Homo sapiens: one gene and its partner. The protein of the gene in region 1 purifies or fractionates together with the protein of each later gene. This does not show direct contact. Each region holds a gene or a part of one and is shown on either strand. Other genes may lie near its edges.

The links.
Region 2: the proteins of OMD (region 1) and SUMF1 purify together in Homo sapiens (affinity purification with mass spectrometry; one large-scale study listed by BioGRID and IntAct). This does not show direct contact.

Annotation. Positions count from the first base shown.
Region 1 is NC_000009.12:92,421,672-92,425,616, reverse strand, and holds the start of OMD (osteomodulin precursor), read left to right. Parts: upstream 1-1,145; 5' UTR 1,146-1,415; intron 1,416-3,945.
Region 2 is NC_000003.12:4,418,459-4,422,491, reverse strand, and holds part of SUMF1 (formylglycine-generating enzyme isoform 1 precursor), read left to right. Parts: intron 1-2,345; coding exon 2,346-2,428; intron 2,429-4,033.

The DNA of each region.
Region 1 (3,945 bases):
CTTTTTTGAGGAAACAAAATGAACTCCAGGATTCACTTTATCTTATTAGTTTGTAAAAGCTTAAAAGAATTCCCCCCCAAAATGAACTCCGAATCTACTGCCAAAAGACACAAGTCAACTCTCTGTTTAGAATATGAGAACAGTGTAAAAATTAAACATTAAAAACAGTTAACTGTTACTATTCAGGAGAGATAGCTCTATGAAATGAAGAAATTTTCTAAATCTACAAAATAAAGGCAATAGCTATTGAGTAACATAAGCTTTTCATCCCATTTTATTCAATACTACAGAATTATTTTGTGCAATAGTAAAAACAGGCAAATTGAAGATACACCTTTGGAGTGCAACCAACTGACTAATTTTATCTGAAAGGATATTAGAAGTCATTCTAGTGGGTACATCTGCCAAAAAGAGGAGAAATGAGATAGCTGATAAAAATGATGATAAAAATGAAGATGTAAGCCTTTGTATAGAAAAGTCGTATAGTTAATCTGTGTAAGCAATGACAATCAAGTGCATTTTAAAAATAAACAATGCGAAATGTTATGTTTCTAATCCTGATTTCTTGTTTTAACAAATAGAAGTACTGATATGAACCTAGGTGTTGAATAACCAAGGGACTCAAGAAATTTTGAGTTCCAGGCCAGGCGTGGTGGCTCATGCCTGTAATCCCAGCAATTTGGGAGGTGGAGGCGGGAGGATCACCTGAGGTCAGGAGTTCAAGACCAGCCTGGCCAACATGGTGAAACCCCATCTCTACTAAAAATACAAGAAATTAGCCAGGCATGGTGGCTCATGCCTGTAATCCCAGCTACTTGGGAGGCTGAGACAGGAGAATTGCTTGAACCCGGGAGGTGGAGGTTGTGGTGAGCCGAGGTTGCACCACTATACTCTGGCCTGGGCAGCAAAGCAAGACTCCATCTCAAAAAATTAAAAAAGAAATTTTGAGTTCCACCTTAAGTTGCTGAGACTCTGGAGTTCCCTGTCACAGTGGGCCTTAATTTGAAGAATTCTTTGGCATGAAAATGAAAATAAAAACAGTAATCAGTACATGCTGTTTCATTTAGTTTTGTTTGCCTTTCACATTAGAGGAAATTCTTGCCACACCTCAAACCAAAATTAAGGGGAAAAGAAAGAAGTAAGCCACATAAATCTGACCAAGAACACAAGCATCTTAATTTGAATCCACAAAGTTTCATGTAATGAAAAGAAATACATAATTTTAATTCAACCCGAGTGTTTTCCAAGAAGATTGTATTTGCTTAAATTGCTACAGTAATTCAAGAGACAGCCCTGTCTGGACACAGAGTTACTGTGGATTTTTAAGAGACTCAGTTAAAGAATTTAGGAATTTCTGATTCATTTAAAGGATTTACAAATTCATCAACCCCTGAAAACTAAAGCAAATTGAACAGGTATGATAATAAAATAATTTTCAATTTTTTAAGAATGTATTCCTACTGTTAAAATTTAAAAGTATATTGGATTTTTTAATATTAAAATAGACTGCATCTATTACAAAAGCACAATTTTTGGAAGCAAAATCTGGTAAAAAAGTTATGTTAAACTTTTGATTAGGCAAAATGTTCAAATAAAGTAGTATAATGAGTTTAACTTTCTCATTTAAGATTTACCCAATAAAAAATCTTTGTTTAGATTTTTTTTTACTTTGAATGAAAGGAAAGATTCTCAGGTTAAAGGAATCAATCTCTTTCTCTTCCTTAGGTCTCTTTTTTTCTATGAATTATAAGTAACAAAGAACCAGCTAATGCCTTTGAGGCATACAGCTGAGCAATGCTAGTGATTCCGGTTGGGGGGTTGATGGGCATTTGTACAAATTTCACTCAAGATTTTCTCCAAATTTCTCTACTGACTAAATCCCTGATATAGAATGTTTTTCTTTTCATTTACTTCTTTCTCAAAGGGAAAATACAGATGCTCTATCTAGTCTATTGAAGGATCTAGTTACTTTGGGTTTTAGTTAATTACGATTTAAATGTATTATGGCTAAAAATAATTGAGGTAATTGTATTTTTAATAGCAAAAAAATTTTATAAAATTAAAATTTAGAACTTTTTTGGAAAAATCTAAATTATATGCTAATATTTGCTTTCTTATATGCTAGTTTCTATGTCATACAAATAAAAACAATTATGTCTTTAACATAATAAAATGTTGAGGATTTTACTTTAAACTTTTCCTGAACAAGTAAATTATACCTCATTAGTAATTTCAATTGAAACTTTTCTTGATGAACACGAGTGCTTTTCTCCAAGTAAGAGAAATATTATGACACAGATGGTTTTATTGCTATAATATGAAAAATTCACATTGAAAACTGGTAATATATATATATTACTTTGCTCCAAACATTCTTTTTCACATTTGTTCTTTTCCTGCTACACGATGTACTAGGAAAGTGAGGAATACAGTATATTGTGATGAAGAAATATTCAATAGAAAAAGGAACAGTCAAGCTCTCATGAATATGTTCATTTGAAGAAATTATCATAGTGAAATAAATGCCTAGGAATAATCAACATTAGTAGAGAGAAGCATTTGCTAGCAAGCCTTAACCTATAACTTATTAACTTATTCATTCAACACACCTTTGAGCACTTATAACACTGCATTGTATTAGATTCTGTTAAAAGATATTAGGAAATGAGATGATCAACAATGAATTATACAATATTGCTGTGAGTTATCCTATAGAGAACAAGGCATACATTGTAGAGTATGAAAAGCAGAAGTAACAAAAATATGCTTAGCAAATGACTCAGAAGAGATTAGTTGGGGAATGAAAAATTTGGATAAAATAAGAGATTGTTGTAACAGGGGAAATTATCCTGGGGAAAGAGCAAGAGGCATAGAAAATAATGAGCATATAGATGAAAACAGGATGGATTTCAAAACAGAAAACTGCACTTAATCAAAGGGAGTGGGACAAGATTGTACTACATGGTTAGGAACGTGGAGGGAGGAGGACAAGGATGTTTAAGATAAGTTCAGGTTTAGAAGAGAAATTGTTCCTCAAGGAAAGACTTTCTTCTTAGGTGCTCACAAAGGCGGAAAGCAGACAATATTAAAAACCTCTTTATTTTCAGAGACGCCCCAGTCATGTCTTGATTCAAGGCCTTCTTCTTTTTTCCCAACAATTTTTCATAGTTGTTGAACAACAGACTCTAATTCTCAAATGTAAGGTTGATAACTGATGATTAGCTAATGTTCTCAACAAAGGGATAAAATTCAAGCTGAGTTTTCAGCCAGGCAGGTGGCTCACACCTGTAATCTCAGCACTTTGGGAGGCTGAGGTGGGCGGATCACCTGAGGTCAGGAGTTCGAGACCAGGCTGGCCAACATGGCAAAATCCCGTCTTAACTAAAAATACAAAAAAATGTAGCCAGTCGTGGTGGTGCACGCCTGTAATCCCAGCTACTCAGGAGGCTGAGGCACAAGAATCACTTGAGCCTGGGAGGCGGAGGTTGCAGTGAGCCGAGATTGTGCCACTGCACTCCAGCCTGGGTGACAGCACGAGACTCTTGTCTCCAAAAAAAAAAAAGTTAATATGTTATACTATAATAAGTACAATAAAATATTATAAAATTATACATAAAATATCATCAATGAGTATAAAATGTATAGAATATTCTATATCCATTCCTATTAATCTCCCAAAGTCTGGGTCAAATGATGTCTACAAAAGACTTTCCTGTCTCCGTAAGGCTGAGGTAAGCCACTGGCCCCACAGCATTGCCTATCTCTGCTATAAAGGATATTACCCTCTGCCTTAGATTAGGGTTCACTTTGTTGTATCTCTCTCCTCCACTAAGCTGTTTGCTCTTTACAGAAGGGACTATGGCTTCACGTCTTCTTCATTTCTGTATTCTCCACCAACTTAGCATAGTGCCTCATCACTAGAAATAATTCAGGACAACGGTAAAC
Region 2 (4,033 bases), on another chromosome or scaffold:
AATCACTAATGATGAAATATTTTAAGACACAAAAGGGTATGAGAAGAAAAGTCATTCATGGAGGTTAACATATTGCTATATTTTGTCATTCTTTTAAGCTTTTTTATTTTTATTTTTTAATTTAAGAACTAGAACCTTCTGGTGGTGGTGCTTAGTGTTGGGGACAGGGTAGAGTTGGAAGAATGATCTGAGGATCCTCCTGAAACACAAGTGTGGGCTGACCTGAGCTTTCACTGCAGCTCCTCCCTTGACACTGAATGAATTACCTGTCATGGGCACCTAAACCTGCACAGCCCAGTCAGTGAGAACAGCCCCCAGAGGAACTTCTACAGCGCCACAAATGAAATAGAAAGAAGCCATGCCTCTTCACTCCCCTGTTCTCTGTAAAATAAAACACCTTGCTATAGTGTCATTTAAGGACCTAATGCCTTCTTTTGTTGAAATATTTTAAAAATTGGGTTTTCCCATCAAATTGTGATTGAGATATCATGAATGTTCTGATTGTGTTGATGTGAAAAGAGAATGAACAAGAATGGGGCTTGGTGTTTTCAGTGATTGCTGTAATTGTTAGCAGGGACATATTCTCCCTTAACTTCTACTCAGACAAGCTCAAAAGGATGAAAACAATCAAAGAGTAACATTGTTGTGGGGATAACCTTGAGTCACTTTCTTTTGTATTTGTATTTGTATTAGAAGAATCATTTGCAGGCCAGGTGCAGTAGCTTACACCTGTAATCCCAGCACCTTGGGAGGCCAAGTTGGGCAGGGATCACTGGAGCCCAGTAGTTCAAGACCAGCCTGGGCAACATGGCAAAACCCCATCTCTACAAAAAAATACAAAAAATTTAGCTGGGCATTGTGGCGCACACCTGTGGTCCCAGGTACTTGGGATGGTGAGGCGGGAGGATCACTTGAGCTGAGGAGGTCAAGGCTGCAGTGAGCCATGACCGTGCCACTGTTCTCCAGCCTAGGGGACAGGGTGAGACCCTGTCTCAAAAAGAATCATTTGCAACATCTGTTCTTTAGCTAGTATTAGCAACAATGATTAGTTTTTGTGGCTCTCCTTGTGACTGAGTGTCATGGGGCCATAGTGAGACTGGTTCCCTTTACTGAGTGCTTGCTGAGTCATTAACCTCAGTTGCTAAGGGCATAGTCATAAGTCCTGTATGCGTATTATATTTCCTCCTTGTAATAACCCAAGATATAGGTGCTGTTACTATCTGTATCCCCACATGAGAAAACAGGCTTGGGGAAAGAGGTTAAATAAGTTGCCTAGGGTCACACCGTGAACAGCAGAGCCATGATTCAAATCTCATTTTGACTGGCTCCAAAGCCTGTGTTCCTAACTAAACCACTCACTAAATGAGGACTCCTGACTGTTGTTATTTTGGTTAACAGAACCATAAAGTAGGAGTTAAGGTTCTAGTTACTGTTTGCTGAGCATTTTCCAATCTTACCTCACTTGACCTCTGTATTCTGAGTTAGGTGAGGCAGGTGGGTGTGCTCCCATTTCACAGACAAGGACTAGGAGGGTCCAGACAAGTAGTGAACTTGCCCAGGGTCACCCAGCTAATGTTGGGTTGGAAGTTGAATCGGGGTCTTTTGAAAATACACCCCATTTTTTCTTCTGTGCTTCAGCTTGATCTCTGACCACCATGGTTGACCTTTAGCCTCACATTTAATTGTAGGGTTAACTCTGTTTCCTCATCTTTTAAATAGGAGCAGCACTACCTGTCTCACTTGTTAGAGATTATAGAGGATTGGCTAGCCATGCACTTTTTAAAAATTCTTACAGAGGCCGGGTGTGGTGGCTCACTCCTGTAATCCCAGCACTTTGGGAGGCCGAGGCGGGCGGATCACAAGGTCAGGAGATCGAGACCATCCTGGCTAACAGAGTGAAACCCTGTCTCTAGTAAAAATACAAAAAATTCGCTGGGCTTGCTGGCACGTGCCTGTAGTCCCAGCTACTCGGGAAGCTGAGGCAGGAGAATCGGTTGAACCTGGGAGGCGGAGGTTGCAGTGAGCCAAGATTGCAACCCCTGCACTCCAGCCTGGGCGACAGAGCGAGACTCCATCTCAAAAAAAAAAAAAAAATTCTTATAGATATACACCATTTAAATACATATGTATTTGTTTGCTGTGAGGCTTTATGATATGAAGTAATACTTTTTTTGTTAAAGATTTATTTACATATAAGTCTTTATTTTGGTATTCTGGCAAATGTATTTGTTTGGTAATCCAAATGGAAGTTGAAGACATTGAGATTTTTGCTGCATGTACTGAGTTGATATTTTTCTAGAGTTGATGTTAGTAGCTAACATCAGCCTGTTCTGGGTTGCTTTGAGGTTGCAGCTGCTCCCTGGTGGTTACCTGTGAAAGGCGCTAACTGGAGACACCCAGAAGGGCCTGACTCTACTATTCTGCACAGGTGAGGCTGGTCCCTCTTTCCCCAGTTGACAAGTTCCATTGCAAAATAGGTACCCTTTGCTCTTGCAAAAGAACTCAGTGGGCATCTTCATCTATAAAATGATAAGAATGACAAACTGTAATTGATTGGTAGGAAAATAAGATGGTGGGAAATAACGTATGTAAAGACCCAAACACTGCACCTTGCTCATAAGAAAGCTCTTAATTAGTGGCCTCTTTCTCTCCTCATTTGGCTTGTCAAAGAGTTGCCTCTTCCCAGTTTCCCTGCTCCTTTTGAGAGGCCTATTCCAAACCTCATGACATGTTTAATCTTTACATTCTGTTTCCATTATTAGCGGGTCTATGAGGAAGAAGACGTCTGTCTTATGGATAAGTAATTGTGTCCTCCCAGGTTGCCACTGTGGAAGCCCAGGCCTTGGGTATAGGATTCACATGATCTTGAGTTCCAGATTGGAATTCTTTGAAGCCACCATCTAACTGGAAAACCACAGAGAGCCAAGTCGGTCAGCAAGTCTCCAGGGTGGCAAGGAAATAATTATCTCAAGCAAAAATAGAGTAACACTTTAAACCCTGGAGATTGAGCAAGGTTTGGGTTAGGACTCAGCATCTCAGCAGCCCAAGAAACCTGCTCTCCTAACCTAATTTTTCAGATGCAGTTTTTAAGTCTCTATTTTTAACAACATTCCTGGTTATTGCCCTTATTGTCGGGGAGCTGCGAGTATAGGAAGTTCAGCTTTAGGGATATAGCCCCTTGACAAATGTCAAACATCTTTCAAAGCCTCAATTGGAAGCCGCTGTGCTGCAATTAGGCTTCGAGGTGGAAAGTCATAGGATTCCTGGGTTTCTCAGGTGGACTTGGCTTCTTAGCTCCCAGTTAATATCTGCTTTCCTGAATTTAGTAACAGAGGAAAATGCTAAGGGAGGAAGGAAAACCCAAAAGGGGAATGTATGTTATCCATGCAGTCAACACCGATGGATCTTCTGAGAAGAGTACCTCTGTTGTCTGTGCTGGAAACAGTGACTGGCACATGATAGGTACTCAGTAGATGTTTGTTGAAAGAATAAATGAAAGGCCTGGTGTAATTACTGTGGGGAATTCAAAGGTGTATAAGGAATGGACTAGGAATTTGTAGCCCACTTTTAAAAAAGTGAGCAGGGAATTCAGCCAAAGCCATCTAGTGCTGGGTGAATGAGTCTATCCCCTTTTTCTCAGTTTTTTTTCCCCAAACTTCCACACCCTTTATACCCTCAGGAAAAAAAGACCGGCCTCTTGTAGAGGAAAAGTAGAAAGACACAGAATTGAAAGCCAAGGGTCACAGGTTGGGTTCTCTGGAAACAGAGGCTGAAACAGAGTTTAGGATGCAGAATGTTAGGGCCCCACACCTGTAGAAAGCAGGGGCCAGAGCAGGACTGGGCAGAGGGAGAAGTCAAAGCCACAATGCAGGTCCAACCAAGCTCCACCCAACACAGGGGCCTCTAGGGTGTATATGGCCCATAGGTTGAGCCACTGTAGGCTGAAATGGCTGGCTCTGTATGCCCCTGCTGTGGTTGGTTAGTCACTGGTTTCTCTGAGATGGCTGTCAGCTCTGCTGAACCCCAAAGGAGC